Linked DNA regions of Homo sapiens: regions 2 and 3 are each linked to region 1. Evidence: fine-mapped expression QTL. A gene starts in region 1. Each other region holds a variant in brackets. All regions are shown on one strand. Distances are from middle to middle.

Region 1 (8,180 bases):
ATGAGGAGACGGGGAAGAACCGAGGCATCTTGGGGTGCAGTGTTATCCAGTGCCTTCCTAATCCCAGGGTTCGTCTCCAGGGCACTAGTGACCTAGAGAGAATCTCCTCAAGCGGAATCTGCGAGATTCGTGCAGTCGATTATCCTATCCCCTCGACCGGCTCCATAAAACGGTTCTTAGGAAAAACTCGATTTTTTTTTTCCCATGCGGGAGGGAAATGCAAAACCCAGGTTAATGCAAAAACCTCAGTGCCTTTCCTAGCCATTAGTTCACAGGCACCCCCGCCTCCATTCCAGGGTTCCAGTCCTCATCTCTACCCGGAACCCCACTCCCTGTCCCGGTGCAGGCAACCCGGGGAAGCCTTTAATTCGGCCGCCACCTCCCACCTCTGCAGAGACTAATGCATTTTACATCTCCTGAGCGTCTGTTTGTTCGCTATGCAGCTGTTGGGCTCGAGAGGGTGTAGGGACTAGAAACTCCTAGTGACCTGCAGCACCGAGCGCCTCTTGCCTCGCGGGCTGGTTTGCAAACTCGGGAAAAAGCTAGGTTCTGGGTCGCGATGTGCAGACACAGGAAAACTGCACCAGGCCATGCAAAATGAGCCCAGAAAGGTACTTTGGCAGCTAGGACCTGGGGAACGCGAGCTTCCCCCCTCAAGCCCCCCGCCGGTGCCAGCTCCCGGGTGCGTGCGAAATGGCTGGCGGTCCGACCGGAGGAGCATGGAGGCGCGGGGTTAATGCGCCATTCCAAATCGCGGTGCCCGCCAGCAGGAAGCCACAGAGGCACTAGATTTCCCTTCCGTCTTAAGAGGGTTTTCCCTTTTTTCCTGCTTGGCCGACGGAGGGCTTTTTAAATTGGACGTGGAGATCCTCAATTAGAAGTGTGGCGAAGCTGGCAAAAGACTACACAGTGGAAAACTCCCCGCGTCGCCAGAGGAGGCTCCCGGCTGCGGTTCCCGCCCTCGGCCGAGCGCCGCCAGCGCCCGGATCGAGCTCCCCTCTTCCCCCGGGACAGGGAGGGCGCATTCTTCCCTCTGAGCGCCGCCGGGACCGGCTCCAGTCCGAGGGGCTCTTTCGTTCTCGGTATTTGCTGGGCGGGGGAAAAGGGGGGAGGTTGGGGGACTCGGCACACACAGCGTCTACTAGGACGTTTTTCTTAGAGTCCGTGTGGGCTCCACCCCTCGGCTTCTCAGTTTGTCTCTCTATCGCTTTCCCAAAACACATCTACATCTGCCCGACGCGCTTCTCCTCAACCATGGGCCTTTGCCCGCGGTGCAAACTGCTTTACGCGCCGCCACGTGCGAGAACCAAGCTCTGCTCCTCAAGTGACGGGGGCTCTGCTCTGCCAGGTGACCGCGCACCATTTCTCGTGCCTGGCAAGCTGGTCCCCTTCTGGGTCCGGGACCACCACGTCCCGGCAGGGCAAAAGCAGCAGGCCGTGGGCGCCGGCACCTGTGGGTCCCCAGGCCTGGGGAGGCAAGGACGCCCAGGAAAGCCACAGAAGTGCTCGCAGAAGCAGCCGCTCGCCGCGAGGCACTTCTGAGTTCCCGGCAGCAGGGGGCACCAGAAACCGTCTGAGCCGTGTCGCGCCCACGCGGCCCGGAGGCTGTGTTATCATTTTAGTTATAAAACCGGAGAACCACCACTCCCTCTACGAGCCTCCCGAAATCCCATTAGCCCGGGAACCTGTGGAGGTCCTTACTGGCATCTCTGCTTTTCAGGCTCCCACCCCTCCATTCTCGCTGGTTTTCCTCTCCCCACTTCACCTGAGCGGGTTTCTTGGCAACCTGCTTTCAGACCATCCCTCACCCCTTCCACGCGTCACCGTGACAGATTCGCAGGAGGCAGCGCTCCCGCCGTCAGTGCCCCCGCACCTTCTTGTGCCTGGCAGGCTGGGAGGTTTGTTTGGGCTTTGCCTTCAAGATCCAGGTCTCAGAGAGAGAAAAAGGAGGCGGTGGGGCGGGGAGACGGGTTTGCTATAAACTCGGTTTTTTTTTTTTTTTTTTTGGCGGGGGGAGGTAGAGACAGAAATTGCTGGAAGATCTATTGCTTTTCTTAACTATGCTTCGTGTCCTTGACTGACAGAGGACTTATTCTCCCCTCAACCCCCCATAACTGCGGGGCCCAAGATGAGGGAAGGAAAAAGAATTTGGGACACTTCTCGCAGGCAAACTGGGAAAGCGGTCTGTTTAAAGGGCCAGGTTCCAGGCCCGAGAGCACCCGAATTGCTAGCGGGAAAGGGCTAGGGACACGGCGGACTTCCCAGAGATCGGACACTTGTTACTTGTTGAAAAGGCGCCACCTTCCCTGACAAAGCGAAGGCGCAGCGAAACAGTACGAGTTTGGTCGAGGCCGGCTTTGACGGCTTTGCGGGACTGGGTGCGTGAATGAGGTTGGAAGAAACATCTCTTCCTTGAAATACCTAAGCATATATTCCAAACACTGAGCAAGAGTCGAGCGCGTTCTAACATCTCCGCAGCAGGGGCCGGAAGAGTTGCCTTTGTCCCCGCCTATGAGCAGAAGGGTCGCGAGCTCTGGGATGGGTAAGCCCCCCGGGGGCGCGCACATGGGTCCTGGCGGCGGATTCTACCAAAGCCGAAACTAGCTGGGCCCCAGGAAGCTGGCGGGAACCCGCGAAAGTCCGTTTCCAGCCCGAAGAGGGTTCGTTTTTCTTCGTTGGGGCAGGAAACAAACCACCAGTGCGGAATTAGCCTCGAGGTGGTGTAAAGTAGTGGCAGTGGTGGTGGGGTGTTTTTGGAAGGCGGCACAGAGTACAGGAGAAAAAGGGGTCATTAAAATAATAACCTCAATGGCCTAGTGGAGTCTCAAGAATACGTTCGAGACAGAGATTTGAATCCAGGACTGGCAAGAAAGCCCCTCTCCTAACCTCGACGGGGATGGTTAGTTGGGGTGGAGGGCGTTAGGAACGTGCAGGCAACCGGGTGAGGAATGTAGCTTTGCCAGACCTCGCCCGGAGGAGGTGAGCCCTCCATTTTTAGGTTCTCAGCACCTTTGCAGCAGCCCCTCCCCCGGCCTGCGCTTTTCCTTGGCACAGATCAAAACAAGCTCAATAGTAAGTTGCACTCTTGGCAATGATAGTATCTCTGCACGTCCAGAGAGGACACATTTCGACGGCGGTGGGTTCGAAGATGACCCAAGCCCTGAATCGTTCTGTGACTTGACGGAAGAGCACCTGGCCGAGTCGGGGAAGGAAACTGCCCCTCTTGGGCATTCCGGGTCCAGGCGCATCTGGGGCTCCACAGATCTTTGCCCACGTGGAAAAGGCAACATGCCCCTCCGAAAGGCCGGCCTCTCTCCGGTTCTACTTTTCTCTCTCCTCGCATAGCTTAGGTTCCCTCTAGTCTTTCCACTTTCTACTCTCACCGTTTGCTCTGGGGTCCAGACGCACCCCTCTGACTAGGGCGCCCTTCAGCCGGCCGCACCCACCCGCGACGCAGGCACCACCCGCTCCCTGCTCCCCGGCCCGCTCCCTCACTTACCTCGGATCGGGTCTCCGCAGACCCTAGGTTGGACATTAACTCCAGGTGCCCCAAGTCCCAGCCAGGAGACCCATCCGGGCTGATGGCTGGAGCGCGGAGCCCCGCCCAACAGGTCAGGGGCAAGAGTTCGCAATCCTGGGGTCGCGCGGGGCAGCAAGGGCGCGCTGGAGGCGGCGGCCAAGACTCCCGCCGCCGCCGCCGCCAACAGGGCGAGGGCTGCCGGCAACTCTCCCGCCGGGCCCCCGCACCCCCAGAAGCCGAGGTCCGAGCAGCCGCCGCTGCTTTGGGTGGGGGGCTGACAGGGCTGCGCGCGTCGCGCTCTTGGCTGGGGCTGCGCGGGCCCGGGGCGCTGCGGGCGGCTCAGCGGCAGCTGCCGCGCTCTGCGCCTCCTCTGGGCGCACTGCCTGGGAGCACGAGACTGGTTTGTCTGATGCTGCTGCCGGAGCTGAGGTCTTGCCTGGAGATCCGAACGAGACACCACGTCAACCGGCGCGGGGAGTCCCGTGAAGACATGAGGGCGCCAGGAGCGCAGGCTGGTCTTCTAGAGCCCGGGCTGGGGGTCCGGGGTCCGGGGTGGGGGAGGGGAGGCGCGGGGCCCCGGGAGGGAGGGGTCGGGAGGCGTCGGCTGGGCCTGGCGGTGGGGGAGGAGAGGAGAGCAGCGAGGAGGCCCTGGAGTTCCCGAGGCGGGGGGCCGGGGTGCGAGTGGGCGACGCGAGGCGCCCCTCCCTGGGCTGCAGGGAGAGCGCTGAGAGCGCGGAGACGCCGCGGGGCTAGCGCCTTCTCCTCTCCGGGTGGATCAAAAATCGAGAGGAATGTGCGGCGCTCTGCGCGGGCCAGCCGAAAGGGGCAATCCGAACTTGACCGCGGCGCCCGCGCCGGGCTTTGCCCCCGCGCGCCGCACTGGGAGGGTGGCGCTCTGCCGGTGCAGGGCAGCGCCGGGCTTTCCTCGCGCCTGTCGAAGGCCGGCCTTCCCGCTCGGGTGTCTCGCCCTCTCGCTTCTCCGCAGGGCAGGAGGCAGTGGCGAGAAAAGGAGCTGCCGGCCGGAGTTCTAGCACCGAGAAGGAGAGGTGCGGAGCGGCCGGGTGAGGGAAGCCGAGTATTTGCCAGGGGACGCTGCGAGTGGGGATGAATTTATAGGGCTCTCACTCCGTGACGTGCCCTCCAGTGGCTTTTCTGATTCGCTTTCTGACCTAAACACACATTAGTTTAGTCCCCATGCTAAGGCCAACACGGTCTCCAAATATCTGCTGGCTGAAGTCAGAGGCTTTGCATATCATGTATTACATGGCAGGCAATGAAGAAGGCTTCTGAGGCTGGCCGGCTCCTCAGTCCTAGGCTCCATTTTCATGCTGTTGTAATCTAATACCAGACATGGGGCAGGCACATACATTCAAAATCCCAATTCCAGAGGCGTAAGATCACTTTATCAGGAACGGGTTAGGGGAGGTTGAGCTAAACCTGCTTTTATCCAGATTTTCGAAAATGCAGATGGGAAACTTCAGCAAGCGCCCACTTGGATGCTGAGTTTCCAGCGATCAGGGGCCCGGCCCCCATTCCAGAGCTCTGTGGATGGGAGAGGTGAGACCTTCTGGGCATTCCTTTTGTTGGTTAGTTCACCACCAGAAGCTGCCTGAGCCTTCTTTTGTAGAGGACAGGAGGAGGGCAAGTCCTTACACACCCTGTGCATGGCTATAACCATAAATACATTTCATTCACATGGGGCATGGAATTGGCTGTACCTCTAAAATAATGTACTAAATAGGGCATGTCTTTGCTAAGCAGAAACCTGTTTTCCGGAAGCCATTGGACCTGAATTCAGTGGGACCTCTTTTATTTTATTAGCTGGGGCCAGGGAAAGTGTAAACAGGCTCAGTTTACGTCCATGTACCTCTTATTTTATGACTCATCCGGTTGTTGGGGAGTATGTGTTCTTCAAGTAGCTGATACAGACAATAGGCAGGGGAAATGCGTGTGGCAGTGTGGGGGGAAGATCATGTATTATTAAACTTCTTAAAAGTCAAAGATCAGCTACTTTGCAGGTTTGTCAGTGAAGCGAGTGTGGGAGGAAAATTGTTCTTACTAACGTTGCTGTGATTTAAGATTAAGCGAAGTGAAAATCGAGTCATCAAAACATACCTTAGCTGAAATTAGGATGCTCTCTGGAGTTCTGCAGAAAATGACATTTCCCTCTTTGATAGATTTATGGTAGAAATGTAGTTAGATTCAGAAATTAGAGGGCAGAATAAGCTTAATATATTTATTGCCGTTTAGCATTGTTTTTGGAATTTGAAGACGACCCTCATCAATGTTCTTACTCTGAATGATTTCTTTATTTTTAGAGGGCTTTTTGCTGGGGATGATCAGCCCGTCCAAGCACCTGCAAATATCTAGCACTTGCTGTGTGCCAGGCAAAGTGCTAGGCCCTGGGCATTGTGCTGATTGGGCTTTTTTTTTGGGCGGGGGGCGGGGGTTGCAAGGAACAGATACCACTGAGGTTTACCCTCAGTAATGGGAATTTACTGTGGAAGGAAGGCTGACCGGAATCTCCACCATTCCGCCACGTGTCTCCGAAAAGCCTTCCGGAAAGGCCACCCAGCCAGGCCTCATGAAAACTGGATTGAAGTTCAGGAACTGGAAGGTCATTCAGGATACAGCTCTGTGACTGGGTTATCTCGCTGCCCCCTCAGCAGCAGGCATCTGCCGATCCCCACTAACGGCTTAGCCGCCAAGGTGATTCAGCTCCTCTCTCGCTGTTTTCCCCTGGGTGTCCTTTGGCTTCTGCTCCTGCTACCAACTGCTCAGCTCTCAGTTGATCTCACATTTAAACTCCTTTAGTGAAAGGATCTAGTTTGTCCTGCTAGGGATTCACCAGGGGTGAGAGTTGGACTGAGCCTTTGTATCAGTCTCCTTACAGGTTGCAAAACACCCTGTATATCCGCAGACCTGGGGGCAGGTGCCTATCCTGGGCCAATCATTCATGTCCAGGTTGTTGGCATCACAGAGTACACAGCCTGGCCACCTTTGCTTGAGATACTTCCTAGAGTTCCTCCCCACATTCCCTCCACAGAGGATGGTCCCTCAGAAGGAGGTGGGTTAATGGTAGGCACTTTGGGTTTTGACAGTCCTCTCCCAGCCCTTCAGAAACTACCACTACAGAGAGGGAGATATGCTCATGAGTATTGATGGTATAAAGTGATAAATACTCCAACAGAAGTATATATGAGACTCATGTCCTGGAGTCTGATTTTCACATGGCCAGTGAAACACTGGGGAGATTTCAAAAAATACCCAGACCTGTAGGCTGGAAGTGGTGGTGGCTCACACCCGTAATCCCAGCACTTTGGGAGGCTGAGGTGGGTGGATCACTTGGGGTCAGGAGTTTGAGATCAGCCTGGCCAACATGGCGAAACCCAGTCTCTACTAAAAATAGAAAAATTAGCTGGTTGTGGTGGTGGGCACCTGTAATCCCAGCTACTTGGGAGGTTGAGGCATGAGAATTGCTTGAACTTGAGAGGTGGAGATTACAGTGAGTAGTGATTGCACCACTGTACTCCAGCCTGGGTGACACAGTGGGACTCTGTCTCAAAAAAAAAAAAAAAAAAAAGTCCCAGACCTAGGCCTTGTTCAGGGCAATTAAATCAGAATCTCTTGAAGGGTGGAGCTCAGGAGTTGATTTTTCAGATGCTCCCAGGTTAGTGAATTGGCTTTATCTTTTCCCAGTGGTTGCAATCATCTTATGATTCTTTTTGAAAGCAAAATGAAGAAGCCCTATTTTGATAGGTTCTAAGACTAAGACTCTTCCAAAACATTAAATTCCTTTCAAAATACAAAGTATCTTAAAACAGTAATATAAAGGAAAATGTTAAATTTAATTTAGAATTAAAGCAAATATTTCTAATTTTGAAAGAACATTTATTTACATGGCTACAGCATACAGATGAATTCAGCAAAAGTTCCTTCTGAAGTGACTGCCTTGAATAGAGTTAAGATGGGAAGCAAACATTTGGTGTCTTGGGAACAAGGGGATGGCCTGATGTCACAGTCTCACGCCCCCATAAGCTGAAAGTAGGGAGCCCCACAGCTCCGAGGCTCCAGCTTCTCTGTTCTCAAGGAAACGGAATAGTTTGATTTGAAGCTGTTCCTCAGCGAAGTCCAGAAGGGAAGAATTTGCAGCACCGACTCTGCTCTCAATAGGCAGAACATCCTCTGATAAAGCAACAACAGCAACATACTGCTAAGGATTCTCACATTGTCCCCAGATCTCAGCTTTTTATCTAGGAAGCCCTGCCTGAGAATCAGAGAGAACAAACATTGTTCAAGCCTCCCATCTCCTCTTTGAGAAAAAAGGTTCGAAGCCCTGCTAATTTCCTATTTCATCGCTATCGTCCTCTTCACTGGGATTTCTTGTGAGTCTCTAACTGAAAGTTGTCTAAATGATCGGTGCAATTTGTGCCCAAGGATCTTACAGTCCTTGGGAAGAGAAAACACAACCATAAAATGATGAAAAATAATACAGGGTATTATAAGGTTATGGAACTCAAACTAGCCCTTGATTGGAGTAAGTAAGCAGAGAGGAGGTGGGGGTGAGGGGACATTCCAGGCTGGCTGAAAGGGTCGCTGGAGGAGACTGGATGCTAGGTACTGCCACATTCTTGCTCAGCCTCTGTGGCCCTGTAGGGCT
Region 2 (8,180 bases), 83 kb before region 1:
CTTTGCTTGGTTTTTATCAGTATTAAATTAGAAAGGTATAGAATTGCTTTGTAAATGTAAAGACTAAACAGAAGACATTAAAAATTATTCTAAAAAATCATTGTGCTTTAGTGACTAAAAAACTAAAACAAAAGTTGGCAGTTTGTCCAAAATAATAATGCATCAATAGAATAAATTCTGTGCATTGGTTTCACACAGACATGGGGTAGTTTTTGCATGTTAAATAGTCCCCTCTAGACAGGTTTTTTAGGACTTGCCTTCTCCCCTCCTGCTCTCATTTGTTCTAGTGATTTCAATAATTATAAAAATGCATGATGATCCCAAAAGTATATCAGAAAACTCCTGGTTTTACAGGCTTCACGTACCCACACCTGCTTCCCAAAAAATATTTTTAAAGAATCACTTGTACTCACACAGCTCCCTTGTCTCTACAGATTCTGAGGTGGCAGTGGGCATTCTTTTATAGATAAATCCTTAAAACTTCATTCTCATACACTTTCTCAGTCCTTCCTTCCTACCCCCATCCTCATCCTATTCCCCTTCTCTTGTGACTCAGACTATAGGTAATAGGTAAAAAGAAAAGAACTAACATTTGCTGAGTGTCTGCTACATAATGAGTACTATCCCAAGCCCTTTACTTGTGTTAGCTGATTTAATCCTCACAAAAACCCTATGAGTAGGTAAAATTGCTAAACCCATTTTCCAGATGAGGCAAAAGAGATTCAACATGTCAAATCATATGTCTGAGGTCACAGCCAGAGAGGGCTGCATGACAGCACCCAAGATCTCTAAACATCAGTAATTAACAAATAGCCCCAAGTTTTCTGTTCCTTTTGAAAAACACTTCATTCAGAATCAATTACAGACCAATATTTTGTTCCAGCTGCTTAGAATGTATAAATTTATTACTTCTTGAATAAAATTTACTGAAAGCATCTCACATTTTCCCCCATCTTAACATAAACATTGCACCATATGGAAGTATTCGTCTTGTACAGCCAAAAGTTGCAGTGGAGGGTTGGAGGAGGAATAAAAACTTGATCATAGTGGTCTTGGCGGAGTCAGCTATGATGTAAGGGAAGAGAAAGGCAAATTTCGCACGAAGATGATTTTCTCATCGTTACCCACAACACAAGTGGGCCTTTTCATATTTAAGAGGATCTGTCTCACTGTAGAGAGTTTTATAAAGAATTATTTTTTCCACAGAAGATTGGCAACATGCACATACGGATTTCAATTTCAAATTTGGTAAGGGAGGAGTTTAGAACCAGGAATGGACAAATAGTGTGTGTTCATTTGACCTGCAGTCCTGTCACCAGAGTGGGCATCAACAGTTATTTATCTTACAGTCCCTCACACTCCCCATGTCCCTCAGGCCTCGTTATCTTCCCCCATGCAACCTTGTATTTGGTCGCCTTCATTTCTAGTTGCTCGAAGGAACTGGCAGTCATCCTAATGACTCCTCCCTCACCCCCCACTCCCACCCATTTAATTATTTGCCAGTTTCTTCCCATGCTGTCTTCTGAATCTCTCATATTTGCCCTTCCTCTCTTTCCCTACCACCCCTCTAGAATTTAGACCCTCTTTTAGCCTTCACCAGCACCACTCAGGAGCCTCCTGCCCAAATGATCTTCCTGTTTTTCATTAGGTCCTCATCTAACCCATCTTTCATTCTGTCATCAGAGTTGGCCTTCTAAAGTCAAAATCTGTCATTTCATTCTTTTGCCTAGAGCCTTCCAGAAGCTCTATGTCAGTACTCATGCGTTTATGTGGCAATTGAGGACATCCAGGATTCGGCCTTTCCCTGTGTTTCATGCTGTAACTCCTGCTGATCTGGCACATGCTTCTGAGGCTCAGCCACTACTATGTTCTTTGGCACCTGAATGGCTTTGCACATGTTGTCCCCTCTTCCACCCTTGTCTGCTTGGAAAATTCCTATTTGATTTTGGAAACAGGAATCAATTTCACCTTCCCAGGCAGACAGTCTCCGCTTCGATAGTTGCTTACATATCTCTCAATTATAGCCTCCTTTTATGTTGCGTTATGATTGTATACACATGAATGGCTTGTGGGCCAGTGGTGTGTGCCCATGTGTGTACATGCATGTTTCCTCACTAGGGTGTAGATTGTAAAAACTAAAGAGCATTGGGTTCAGTAAATATTCAGTAAGTTTGTTTAATAAATTAGAGGAGCCATGTTCTATTCACATTTGTATTCCTAGACCCTAGCCCTGAGAAAGGGTTTAAAAAGAGGCGTATTCAATCTTTGGCAGAGGGAGGGAATGAAACAGGCAAGGATGAAGAATGGATGGGAAAAGAATGAGGTGTGAGAAGTGCTTCTGCCTCGCAGATGGAAAGGAGGATCGTTAGTACTGAAGGTTGGTCTGCATCCAGGCTGCTTTACCTCTTCTCTGTGGGGATTTATTCACAGCTAACTGTGATGGCTCAAGGAGGAGGCAGGATTATCTGTGCTATTCCTGGCAGGGCACAGCAAGTTCTAAGCCACCATGACATCCTCAGGTACTTGCCTCCTGTCCTGTTGGACTTGATACTGGGAAGGTCATGTGACCCTGACTTACCAAAGATCTGAGAGATGTCTAGCATGGGGATTCTTAACCTAGGCGGGATGTCTGTGAACTCCCTCAAATTTTATGCAGCATGCTTTGCTTATACTCGTACATTTTTCTGTGGAGAGAATCCATAAATTAGACTCAATTCGAGGATACTGGGTACAGCTAGTAATTCCTTCATCTCCCAGGATAACTGTCTAAAATTGGGCCATTCATACTTGAAAACCAGGACATAACTCTCACACATTCACACACACACAGTACCAAATAAAACCAACCCAACTAAAACCTTTCATACACTGTCTACCATTTAATCTTAGGCAATCAGTCATATTGCTTTGTAGTCAGACCTTAGTATTTATTCTTTGAAAGATTATGGCTTTCTGTCCCATTAAAAAAACAAGAGGTCAGCTTCACAGCCATATGAAGGCAGAAAAAAAAGTGTGAGCATTTTTCTTAATGTGATCTAAGAACAAATATGAGACTTGAGCCAACTTGAGACAAGCTTTAAAGAATCAACATGACTATCTCAGGCATGAGATAGTGTTTAATAATCAGTGAGTCAGATGGGGCAGGAGAAAGGCAAGGTGTACAGGTACACAAACAGCCTGGGTCAGTAGCCCCCCAGAGGTGATATGCCTCATTCATTTGTGAGACTTATTGTGAAGAGATCAAGAAGTTGGAGAGGGTTGTTTACAGACACATTTTGAAAACCATCTTTCTGGAATAAGGCACATGTAACTTTAATTTTTGATTAATACCCTCACCAAAGAAGAGAGAGGAGGACCAGGCCATGGGAGAAGTGCCTGAAGACAGGAGATCTTTGTGTGTGGGGTGTGCGTGTGTTGAAGTATGTAGCTGCAGGAGGAACTTTCAGGGCAAAGAGTGGAGAAACTGCCATTCTAAGTAGTTTTCTGAATTATCAGTTTATACTACTGTCTTCACATTTTTTAATAAAAGCATTTTAAAAGATACTTCACCTGCCCCCAGTAGTAATAATACTCTAATGAAACTTTTGGAAATGCTTATTTTTAATGGTAGATTAAAAATAGCCACCGGGCGCGGTGGCTCACGCCTGTAATCCCAGCACTTTGGGAGGCCGAGGCGGGTGGATCACGAGGTCAGGAGATCGAGACCATCCTGGCTAACACGGTGAAACCCCGTCTCTAATAAAAATACAAAAAATTAGCCGGACGTCGTGGCGGGTGCCTGTAGTCCCAGCTACTCGGGAGGCTGAGGCAGGAGAATGGCGTGAACCCGGGAGGCGGAGCTTGCAGTGAGCCAAGATCGCGCCACTGCACTCCAGCCTGGGCAACAGAGCGAGACTCCGTCTCAAAAAAAAAAAAAAAAAAAAAATAGCCACAAGCTCATTGACACTTCTCTCCCCTTAAATCTGAGCAGGCTTGGTGACATCTAGACCAACAGAACATGGCAGAAATGATGTTTTTCAAGTCACCAGGCCCAGACCTTAAGAGAATTGCACCTCCTTTCTTTCTCTTGGGACACTTGTTCTTGAATCCTGGCTGCCATGCTATGAGGAAGCCCAAGCAGCCCCATGGAGAGGCCCACTTGGAGAGGAATTAAGGCCCCTAGCCAACAACCCCAAAAGAGCTCCCACAGCTGTCAGCTGGAAGCAACATGTTATTGAGCCATCTTGGAAAACAGATCCTTCAGTTACAGTTGAGTCACATCAGCTCTTGTCACATGAAGCAGAGATGAGCCAATCCCAACAGTGCCCTGCCCAAACTGTGGATTAATGAACAAAATAAATGATTATTGTCATTTGAAGCTACTAAGTTGTGGGATTGTTTATTATACAGAAATGTGTAACTGCAACAACTTAAAAGATAAAATTATTCAACCATTCAATTTGTGCTAATTCAAATATTAGCACAAACAGTACTAATATTTTGATGAATTACCTTCAATTTTTTTCTTTTTTATATAGTTTTCAGATTTATTTTCTCTTCTCAAAAATAGAATTATTATATTTATGAACAATGTGTATTTTTCACTTATAAAATAAGCATGCAAATTTTCCATA[A/T]TATAAACCTCATATATAATCTTAGTAGCTACATAGTAGCTCATTATATACATATATATTCTAAACTATTATCCTATTGGAAATACAGATTATTTTCAAATTTGCTATTATAAGCAATGCTGCTTTGGATAGTTTATGTTGAATTCTTTTCTTAGAATTGGTAAGTAACCCAAAATGGAATTATGCGGGGTCAAAAAGTATGACTCATTTGTTAGATAGGGCCATTGCAATCCTGATTATCAGTAGGTGCCCAATTGGAGAGGACAAAGATGATTCTGGGAAATATTTCTAGTTTACTGGGTTGAACAGTGTTCCCTTAAATTCATGTCCACTGTTAAAAAGCTTAGCTGAATTAAAAGAGTTTAATTGAGCAAAGAATGATTCATTAATCGTGCAGCCTCCCAAGCCAGAGTAGGCTTAGGAACTCCAGCGCAGCCATGTGGTAGAAGATTTATAGACAGGAAAAGGAAAGTAATGCACAGAAAATGGAAATGTACAGAAACAGCCGGATTGGTTATAGCTTGGTGAATGCCCTATTTGAACACAGGTTGAAGAGTTGGACATCTTTGGCCAAAACTTGGTGATTTGTACAAGAGTAGGCTACAGTCTGTATACAACTCCATATAGGTTATAGTTCATGATGTACAGAGAAATCTTTAGGCTGAACTTAAAATACGTAAGGAGGCAGCTTTAGGCTAAACTGGATTTAACCATTCCCTCCATTTGGTAACCCTCTCAATTTTGAGAGATTCACCAAAACTTTAGTCATTGATGTCCCTATCACCATTGTAAATGTACTTATTTGGTCTTGAAACCCACTGAGAAATAGCACAACAGTAGGTTGTGTAAGGCGAAAACAAAGACCTGAGGTTATTATTATTTTTTTTTTGTAAGGGTTAAAGTAGAGGGTACCTCCTTATGCTGGAACTTTCTGTTTACAGGAGAAAAACAAAACCCACCTGTTCTAGGATCTATGTGTTTCCTGAAGTCTTAGTTTGATTATGTCACATTTGGCATGAGTGACTCCATTTTAGTTTGGTCTGGTCTGTTGGGGCTTAGAGCATGAGCCCAGTCCAAAACAATGGCCTCCCATAACTTTGTTTAAAAATTACCCCCTTCTGGTCAGGTTCTCATATAAGAGTGTGACCCAAATTTAAGGCCTTAATGTCACTCTCAGTTATTTTTTTTTAATTTTTATTTTTTTTAGGCTGGGCGTGGTGGCTCACGCCTGTAATCCCAGCACTTTGGGAGGCCGAGGCGGGCGGATCACGAGGTCAGGAGTTCGAGACCAGCAGCCTGGCCAACATAGTGAAATCTTGTCTCTACTAAAAATTAGTCAGGCGTGGTGGCAGGCGCCTCTAGTCGCAGCTGCCTGGGAGGCTGAGGCAGGAGAATTGCTTGAACCCGGGAGGCAGAAGGTGCGGTGAGCTGCCGAGATCACGCCACTGCACTCCAGCCTGGGCAACAAGAGTGAAACTCCATCTCAAAAAAAAAAAAAATTATTTTTTGAGACGAAGTCTCACTCTGTCACCCAGGCTGGAGTGCAGTGGCATGATCTCGGCTCACTGCAACCTCTGGCTCCCGGGTTCAAGCAATTCCCTGCCTCAGTCTCCCATGTAGCTGGGATTACAGGCGCCTGCCACCATGCCTAGCTAATTTTTGTACTTTTAGTAACGATGGGGTTTCACCATCTTGGCCAGGCTGGTCTTGAACTCCTGACCTCATGATCCACCTGCCTCGGCCTCCTAAAGTGCTGGGATTACAGGTGTGAGCCACCGCGCCCAGCCCACTCTCAGTTATTGTACCATCATTTTGGGTTTCCTGTCTCAGCACGTAATTCATAGTTTATGATGTCCTCATGGTCACACATTTCTTTTAGCTCTTATCCAGTTGAAGAAAGATCATTTGACATTCTAAAGATGTCTGCATGCAAACATTTAGAACTGTTGAGAGAATACAGCACACCAGGGAGACTATTATGACTATGAGGAGGACAATACCAAGAGTTTGCAGTATGCGCCTTAGCCAGTGTCCCCATAAAGCAAACCACCTAAAATCAAATAAAGAAGGAGCTAGATAAATAATCTACTCACTTTAAGCAGTCTCTTTGTTAATCCCCTACCACTGAACTTCTATAATACCTGATGTGATGTGTTTCTCCATGGGCAACAAGAAGTGCCAGCAGCTGCACAGATATTTCTCTGTTTAGCCAATAAGTAATGTAGAGCAATTATATTATTTAGCATAACTTTCACAAGATAACCTAAAGTCCATTGTGTAACCACAGCCTTTACAGTAGAATCTGCCATAGAGCCTATCATGAGGGCTAAATTTCTAGTTATTGCCCCATTTACTCCAAACCATGAAAAAAACCACCTAACAAATGATGTCTTTCTAGAGCAGTGAAGACCTCCTGGCAATGTTCTCTTTAACCTATGATGTAGGTTAAGAGGAGTGGACCAATGTTCTGTTTCTGACTGATTATGAGGCAATGTCTGTACCCTTAAAATTTCTCACCTACATTGGACCTTCCATCTGTCTAGACATAAGGTTATCCATATAGAAGGCTGGCTGCAAAATCCTTCCCAAGAAAAATTATGCCCCACGAGTGCACACAACAGACCCCCTTTTCACTTCTATTGTTTGCAGAGGCCTAAGCAAGAGGGAAAAACGGAAAGATAAGAGTCTCATGATAGTAGAGAAATCTTGATCTGTGATCTTGGGAAAAAGCTGTCTACATAAAGGATGCCATCTTCTTCTGGGGAGAAACTTCCCTGGTTAGCTTTACTTTAAGGATTCCAGTGGGTGTATAGTTCCAAGAGTGTAGAGGGACCCCTCTGACTTGTGAGATTGTGAACCCAAGGTTCAAGGTCCTGAAGTTTTGCTACTGTGTGGATGGCAAGGGCAGTCTTTCTCTGATGTTCTCAGGAGATCCAATCTTTGCATTCTAGATTGTGAAGGTGTTGATTGTCTTCAGTCAGTGAAGCATGAAAAGATTTCTTTACCTGGTGAAAATACACTGTTGCATAATGAGCTAGTGTATAACATCAACCCTCTTGCATGGGAAAGCTTTTATACAACCAGAAAACATGCATTGAAAATGACAATTGAATGAAATCCCTCTATAAATGTTTAAATGGCCCATCAGGGAGCAGAATGTACCTGAAGTTTTGAATGTCTTCCTAGGAATATGGGTTTGACAATCAGGTAGCAAAATATATCTGAAGTTTTGATTGTCTTCCCAGGAATGTGGGTTTGACAAACCAAACACTGGTCATAAACTATTTTGACAATTTAGAAATCATCACACCGATACATATATTTAATTTGGATTACTTTATCTTTTCCATGATGAGTCATGGAATGCAGAATTTTTAATGACAAAAGCTTTAAGGACTCAGGAAGGATAAGGCAGTCATCCTGGTTCTCCATGAGTCCATCCTTAACATTGAACTTATGTCTTCTTGAATACCAGTTGTTTCTCCAATTTAGGTGCATAGCACTGATAACCGATGGGTTATCATGAGTAATTTGACTTAGACCATGGAGTTCATTCAAAATGTATAT
Region 3 (8,180 bases), 31 kb before region 1:
CGCAGACCAGTACTGGTCCATGGAAAAATTGTCTTCCATGAAACCAGTCCCTGGTGCTAAAAAGTTTGGAGACTGCTGCTGTAAGCCAAAGTCCTGACAAATACAGATGCTTTCTGAGCATCTGCTACCTAATTCTTCCATTAGAGATTCATTCCTTTGGCTCTAGAATAGCATTTTCCACATTTTGTCCAGCAGAACACTTCCGTTAGATGCCAACAGGCGCTCCTTGGTCAAATGAGGAGGCAGGTGCTCAGGGCTCTTCAGGATTTAAAGGTGAGCCAGACATGGCTCCTGCTCCTGCACTCAAGGAGCCCCTCAACTTAGCAGAGATCATAAGATCGGTGCATAACTTATTTACATATCTACAAAAAAAATCTAAAAGAAAAAGTTCTCATGTCATCAGCCTGACCCACACATAAAGCACTTTGGCTATAGAATCACAGTTAAGTGAGTGATAAATACCGCCACGGGAGTATTTGGAGCATTGAAGATGTGAGGGACAGTATTTCCAGCAGAGAAAATGGCTGGGGCAAGGGTACAACACTGAGAAATTGCCACAAGCTCAACATGTATTTTGAAGTTCTGTAGGACATCCACAGTGACTGAAGGGTTGAGTTTTGGTGTAAAAGGAAGATTTCGGGGACAAAAACCAAACAAGAACTAGAGAAAAGTTTTGTTTGGAACAGATTGTGGAGGTTCTGATTGGCAGTCTGAGTGATTTGATTGGCAGCAAGATCAGGTAACCCTGTGAGGAGGCCAATGCCGTGGTCTGGTCAAACCTTACTGCAGGACTGGGAAGGACTGGGTGGAAAAAGAAGGCTGGAGGTGGTTGGAATCCCAGCCTCCGAGAACATTCTGCAGAGAAACTTTGGCCATATTTGCTCAAGAATCTTCCTCGTGGTATCATTTGAAAGCCATACTTTTTATTTCATGCTAAACATTGTCAGAGGGAGCGGTGGCAGATTCATCCCGGAATGTGAGCCAACGCACCGGGCATGCACTTTAAATGGCATTCCAGACCTCGGGCTGGCAGGCTCCCTCAGATCCTCGCCCTGCACTGGTTCCTGCCTTACCCTGAGTTAGGATGTCAGGAGAGAGGGTCTGTTTTCTTACCTTCCCAGCAGAGAACATCCAGAATGAGACACCAACCCTCCCTATTTCACCTCGTAGAGATATCACTGCACGGGCGTCAGCCTCGGTGCTGTTCTGATGATGCATTTTCTCTTCTTCTCTCCTGTCCTCCTTATGCCTGATCTTTGGGTACACTGTGTCAGCACTGCTATCGCTACACCCCAGTCCAAGTTACCGTTATCACCCACATGGATTCTCACTTGGGCCTCCTAGCTAGTCTCCATGCTTCTGCTTTTGCCCCTGTACAGTCTGTCCTCAACAAAGCAGCTAGAATAATCCTTTAAAAACACACCCAGATCCTGTCTCCCTTTGTCTTAAAACCTTCGGATGGCTTCCTGTCTGATTCAGAATGAAATCCTAAATTGCCACCACGGCCGGAAAGACTCTACGTGATCTTGGCTGCCTTTTCAGCTTTATTTCTTCCCGCTCCCCCATCATTTTGGGCCTCTCTGCTTGCTTTTTTCCCCATCTCTACGGGACTGCTCTCTTCATGGCCCATAATGCACCTCTTCACAATAGAAGCTTGTGCCTGTCAGAATAGGCTAATATAGGCTGCAGTAACAAACAACCTCCAAATCTCAGTGGCTCAAAATAACAAAGGTTTATTCCTCAATTACCACGTTGTGCTGTGCCTGTTGTGGGTTGGCAGAGGGGCTCTGTTTACCATCAGCACTTGAAGTAGACAGAACTGCCGCCATCTTGAATATTGCCAGCTGCTGTCTCAGAGGAAAAGAAAGAGGCTTTGGAGGATCTCATAATGTCCACTAAACACAAGGCTCAGAATGTCACATTTCACTGGTCACTTCTGCTCATGCTCTTTGGCCAATCATTGGCCTCAGTCAACCACAAGGGAACTGAAACATACAATCTTACTATGTGCCGAGAAATGGACAGGATCTGTAATTGTGAAGTGAACTGCACTAATGATGACCACAACTGTGCCATGGCAGGGTCAGCCAGGTGGAGTGAGGGTAGAGGATGGTGGAGAGTGAGGCTGAGGGAGGAGGGTTGGTCATCTCAGCTCAAGCTCAGGGGGAAATGAGAACATGGTGGGAGAGATGTGGAGATGGTTAATGGGTATGAAAAGTAGTTAGAAAGGATGAATAAGACCTAGTATTTGATAGCACAATAGGGTGATTATAGTCAATAATAATTTAATTGTACATTTAAAAATAACTGAAAGAGTATAATTAGAATGTTTGTAACACAAAGGATAAATGCTTGAGGGGATGGATACCCTATGATGTGATTATTACACATCGTGTGCCTGTATCAAAGAATCTCTACCTTATAAATATATACACTTACTATATACCCACAAAAATTAAGAATTAAAAAATGTTTAAAAAAAAGAAATGTGAACATGCCTGTGTTTAATGCTCACTGGCCCAGTCTGATGTGCCATGTGTGAAAGAAATGATGTGTGAAAGAGAACTTGGCCATTTGTCGAGTCCTTCTGGCCAAGTGTGCCTTTCCACAAATGGTGGGTTGGGAAGATCCCCCTGGCCAGAAAGAATTCTGATGTGTGTAATTGTTCCGTTACAGATTCATTCCTTTGGCTCTAGAATAGCATTTTCCACATTTTGTCCAGCAGAACACTTCTGTTAGATGCCAACAGGTGCTCCTTGGTCAAATAAGATTGGGAGATGCTGGGTTAGACAAGATTAAACAGGGCTTCCCTCCACAGGCCTTCTCAGATCCTTGCTTCATATGGAATGTGTGATGTCGTTGCTGCTCCGTGAGAGGGGACTGAAGTATGTGACATTTCTCCCATGTTTAAGATCAAGGAATTCCAGCCTACACAGATGCTTCCTAGGGTTCCACCGGGCAGCTTGGGAAACGCTTGCAGCTTGGGAAACAGCCTTGCAGTCCTACTGAGTCTCCTGTGGGAAGCAAATGTTCCTGGTAGGCCAGTCTGTAGGAGAATGAGATCAGTGCAGACAAGGCCTTGAAAGCATGGGCTCGAGAGGGGCTGCAGAGGCGGTGGGTCTGAAAGGGGGGGGTGGATGTGAAGATCCAAAGTGATCCTTTTCCCAAGGAGCTTGGAGCCTGGCAGAGCAGAGCTCCCTGGTCCCCCACCTCATGGCTGCCTTTCTCCATGGGAGGCCTCTCTCCCCTCTCATTCCTCCCAGTGAAGCTTAGCCGCCCTGCCATCCAGAGCTCTGTCCTCTCCCCATCTCCACCTTCCCAAGCCAACAGCACCCCAGGCTGTGTCTGGGTGTCACGGCTGAGCTCTCAGTGTCCCTTCAGCCTGGAATGCCTTCCCCTCCCTCAAGCCCTCTCTGGGAAATTCCTACTCATCCTTTAATAGTTTAGGCAGCCACTTCCAGGAGGTAGTCCCTGATAGCATCACCCCGCCCCGACCTCCCCACCCGCCTCCCCTGCTCCCCAGGGTCAGCAGGATTCCTTGTCCCTCC[C/T]GGGAGCTCCATGACACCCTTCACTGCACGTCTTCATCGCTGCCCCTCCCCACGTTCTTATGCTCCATTTCTGTCCCTCTAATCTGGGAGCCCCTTGCAGCATTGTCTCTGTATCTTTACATTCTCCCCTGGCAGGAGATAGCTTCTCAGAAATTAATTAAATGAATGAGACCCAGACCCGGAGCAGGTGAGCAGGGAGTGGGTTAAAATCCCCTACATGTACCACTTTAAAGAGTTTCCCAAGTTAAAACAATCGATTCCACATGTTCTGAAACCTCATCCTTCTTCACCATTGCTCAGCTCTATGGTTCTCTGGTTTCCTGGAGGCTGAAGTCTTCTCTCCATCCCTCTCACGGTCTGCCCACCCCGTCCACTTTCCATCTGACGTGCTCTTCCCTCTGTTGCCATGCCCTTGGGCCACTGATTCATATTGTCGCTTCTCAGAAATCATGAATGAGCATTGGAATATCAATGGCATGGCCTTAAGTTTATGCTTCCCTAAGTAGAAAGTAAATGCAAATATCTTGAGAAAACAATCTAACTTGAAGAATGGAAAGAAGGGTTGTTTTTCCATCTCACTCTGTCACCCAGGCTGGAGTGCGGTAGCACTATCTCGGCTCACTGCAACCTCCGCCTCCTGGGTTCAAGCGATTCTTGTGCCTCAGCCTCCTGAGTGGCTGGGACTACAGATGTGCGCCACTATGCCTGGCTAATTTTTGTATTTTTAGTAGAGATGAGGTTTCACCATGTTGGCCAGGCTGGTCTTAAACTCCTGACCTCAGGTGATCCATCTGCCTCGGTCTCCCAAAGTGCTGGGATTTTTTTTTTTTAAGGACAAAGTTGGCTTTAATAATTCATGAAAAAGAGAAAACTAGAAGGAAACTGGAAGCAGAGGACACAGAAAATTTGCTGTTAGCAGTGCACCCAGGGCTGCATGATGACTCTTCATGGGCTCTGGGCTTTTTTGCCTCTGTGGGCCCCTTCTCCATTAAAATATATAACTGCATTGCTATAGACAAGTACAATCTAAGCTGGGTTAATTATTATATATGCATTATTGTTATATTTATTTTTCTTTTGATTTGAAAAATGTTTAAAAAGTTTTTGGGCCCCTAGGCACTGTGTTTGCTGTGTCTAATAGCTTAGCCCACTCTGAGCCCACCACCCTGCCCTTTTGACACTTTGGGTCGCACTGTTCCTCCTGCTTGGAGTGTCTGTCGTCCATCCCAGCCTGTGTTGACCTGGCCCACGTGACAGATTCCTACTCACTTGCAAGGTCCAGCTCCAATGTAACTTTCACCAAATTTAGCAAATTAAAATACAGCATGCCCACTTGGATTTGAACTTCAGACAAATTACAAATATATATTATTTGTTATAACAGGCATGAGTATGTTCCACATGTCTCATGTCCCACATGTTGCATGAGACATGCTTGTACTAAGAAATTGTGCGTGCTTATCTGAAATTCAGATTTAACTAGGTGTCCTGTATTTTCTCTGGCAACACTAATCTGTAGCTGTTTCTGATTTGTTTTCCTTCCGGCTCTTTATCCCACCTGCGGCTCTCTCTGAGGCATTTTAGCGCTCTCTCCACACCTCTCCCTGCACGTCTCGCTTTCGGGGTATCACGGACTCCTCCCTGCAGCTGCAGTCCCATCTTCATCCCACTCAGCTGCCGTGGCCAGGGACGTGACAGTGTATTCCTTGTCTTAGATGAGTAAATATGAGTAAATGTGTGCTTGCCCTTCGTTTCCCCAACTGTCTGTTTTCAGGGATGACTTGGCAGCATTTGGTTTTCATTTCATTCAGGATGTTGTGAGGCTGAGACTAAAGATGAGTTAACTATTGCCTGGGATTCCAGCAGCGCTTCCGTTAACAAACGTGTGTCCCAAGAAGACCCTTGGGGCTTTTTCATTACCTGATGGAAAAAAGCCATAGACCCTCGGCTAAAACCCACGCCCCCTCCTTGGGTGGACTATGAGTGGAGGCAACAGGATTCCCCCTCCCAAGGGATTCTGGTGTCAGCTAGTACATCAGCCGTGGCCAACGGAGGATCTTGTGTTCGAAGGGAAGGTCTTTGTTTTTCAGACGTAGGTTCAGGAAATTCTGATTTTCCACCTCTATCTCGGGAATGGATTGATTCTTTTAAAAGTTCACTTTAACCTACTTCACTCCACACTCACGGTCCCCCAGAGTGCCTCCTTAACACAGCAGAAAGTTGGCCTGAGATGATCTCATGGGCACAAGCCACATAAGGCGGTCGGGACCAGTATCCAAGCTCCTCACCCAGTGCTCTTCCACCCTTCTCTGCAGCGCGGATTTCAGAGCTGGAGGCCAACAGCATGGCCTTCCCTCTGGGGATCGCAGTGAGGGGTGGCGCGCACTCAGGGCTGCAGACCAGCAAAGCACCAGCCCAAGAAGGACGGGGGAGCAAGGTGCAGGCGCCCCCAGGCTGCTGGGGACTTCCCAGCTCTCAGCACATTCTCCTTTTCTTGGTTAAGGAAGTTTCTAAAGTTGACCACTGGTTAATCGTTTTGTTATTCATGCTGAGCAAGAAACCAGGGTCCAAATACCGTGTGTGTGTGTGTGTGTGTGTGTGTGTGTGTGTGTGTGTGTGTGTGTTGTGTGTTTGGGGAGGGGTGCCCTCCCAGTAGGGAGCTGCCCAGTAGTTTCTGCCTCTTATTAATCTCTAGTACAGCTCGTGACTCACCATGAAACTCACAGGAACACGCAAGATGGCCCAAAATAGTTTCCAGGGTGGTCACCAGGTGTGATGAGAAAGAAGACAAAACAATGAACCCATGGATCCATGGTCACGTCTACATGGGGAATTCTGCACACGACACCCTCCCCTGGACTGTGAAACAATCATTGGCCCAATAAAGGCTCTGATAAGCTCTACAGTTATATTTTAAACCTTAAAGCATGGGTTGATGCTATTTAACTCAGTATTTTCCAAAGTTATTTGATCAGAGAACCATCCTGTCCTCCTCCCTTTTTTTTTTTTTAAATTTGAGGAGCATCTCACTGGGTAAGTAATCCTGGACACACTTTGGGAAAATAGCTCTAAAAAGGGAGAGGAGGTAAGCAGGAGTTTTACCATCTTATGTTCCCGCTCCAAGTCACTGACTTTGGACTGGAATTTTGGCTTGGAGAAAACGCAGCTGGCCTCAGCACCACCCTGGAGCCTCTTCCAGCCAGTCCTGGCAGAAGGACTCTGAATGCCTGAACCCACAGGTTGGTACCCGTGACTCCACCAAGTCTCCACGCAGGGACGGCGTGCATCGGGAAGAGGGGGCATTTCAGGCAAAGGCTAGTGCAGCACAAATGCCATCCATGGGGCAGCCTAGGCTGGGGCCATGCAGAAGAGCCATAGAGCACCATGCAAGGCCGCCTTTTGATAGTCACAAGGCAGTCTGTGACGTGACTCAGTTTCATACAAGCTGCTTCTTCTGCCTGGGACGCTCCTGATCTGTTGGCACTGTTTCTTAACTTCGGTCTTAAAGTCATTTCTAATTAAAGCAAGCTCCCCTGTTAGTGTCTATATTATAGGATCCTGTTTGTATTCTTTTAGCGTTTCTCAACACAGGGATCACTACATATTTTACTTTTTTGAATGTTGTCTGTCTCCCCGCAAATAAAATAACTCCAGGAGGACAGCGGTTTTTGCTTTGGTCACCATTAGAGCCCTGGTGCCAGGAACAGTGCCTGGCACAGTGTAGGCACACCATAAGGGTTTGTTGAATGAATAAGAACAATTTTGCAAGTTTTGTCCCTCCTGAGTGGGTGATTGGTTGCTGGGAGTTGATAGGCAAGGCCACTGACCATCCAGTGGGCTGTGTGGTAAGAAGGGGGTGATTCCTAAGAAATACTTGTGGATGGCTGCCTGGCCCAGTGCATGCAAGGAAGTACAGAAGTACAGAGAGCAATAGAAATGAGTTTTTATTTGTAAAAAGTTACAAAATGATATTGTACAAAAATAAAGTCTGTAGAGAACTTTGGTTTTATAACACAAACGACCAAGACAGATCAGAGAAGTCAGAACTTCCAAACAAGTGCACTCCTTACGGTATCAGATGGTGATCGCAATGATAAAGAAAAATCACAAACTTTACCCTTTTGTGGATTTGGTGGAGCAACTTGCTTCCATTAAAACCTGCTTGTGGTGTGTAGGTGATGCCGGGAACGAGCTATTGACACCCCTTGGATCCTACAGCTTTTTTGGGCAGGGACTCTCCATGGGGAGTTGTTGGGGGGGGTCACTGAGGTTGAAGCCTGGGAACAGTGGCCATCGCACTGCCAAGGTTCTCTGAATGGGACAGATGCCCCTGGGGCCACATCCAAATTGTGCTCCACGAATGACTGGATGGCTGGGGTTTGTCACTGTTTCGAGCAGTCTGAATTCTCAGCAAGATCCCAAGACAGTGTGAGAGGGAAGGCCTTTCCTCCATTTCCCAGGCGAGCAAGGGGAGCAGAAAGGACAGAGAAGGGCAGAACCATGAAGAATTTGGGTATTTTGGGGGAAGGGGATCAGATGTCTGGTAACTGCTGCTTCTTGTTACTATGATTATTTGATGGAGGCCAGTATTTCATTTAATTGCTAAATCTGTCATAGTTTTATACTAGTAGC

Which allele goes with the higher level. Alleles are on the strand shown, and positions count from the first base shown. SD is a standard deviation of normalised expression in the study named.
In carriers of allele A in region 2, the expression in fibroblasts of the gene that starts at base 4,034 in region 1 tends to be higher than with T alone (moderate effect, 0.59 SD a copy in GENCORD).
As copies of C replace T in region 3, the expression in tibial nerve of the gene that starts at base 4,034 in region 1 goes up (moderate effect, 0.56 SD a copy in GTEx).

The links.
Region 2: its variant is fine-mapped to the expression of GDNF in fibroblasts (GENCORD, PIP 0.91).
Region 3: its variant is fine-mapped to the expression of GDNF in tibial nerve (GTEx, PIP 0.92).

What each region holds. Positions count from the first base shown.
Region 1 is chr5:37,836,008-37,844,187 of GRCh38, forward strand. GDNF (glial cell derived neurotrophic factor) reads right to left here and starts at 4,034. Exons shown (of 3, transcript NM_000514.4): 1 at 3,500-4,034. GDNF-AS1 (GDNF antisense RNA 1) reads left to right here and starts at 3,877. Exons shown (of 4, transcript NR_145476.1): 1 at 3,877-4,031. RefSeq lists enhancers at 141-1,079, 1,431-1,500, 2,958-3,895.
Region 2 is chr5:37,753,339-37,761,518 of GRCh38, forward strand. WDR70 (WD repeat domain 70) reads left to right here. Exons shown (of 18, transcript NM_018034.4): 18 at 1-97. Among named protein-coding and RNA genes, the nearest start is that of GDNF-AS1, 82 kb to the right of the region's middle. RefSeq lists a silencer at 2,988-3,236. The variant A/T (reference allele first, on the strand shown) is at 4,614.
Region 3 is chr5:37,805,202-37,813,381 of GRCh38, forward strand. GDNF (glial cell derived neurotrophic factor) reads right to left here. Exons shown (of 3, transcript NM_000514.4): 3 at 7,476-8,180. Among named protein-coding and RNA genes, the nearest start is that of GDNF-AS1, 31 kb to the right of the region's middle. The variant C/T (reference allele first, on the strand shown) is at 3,549.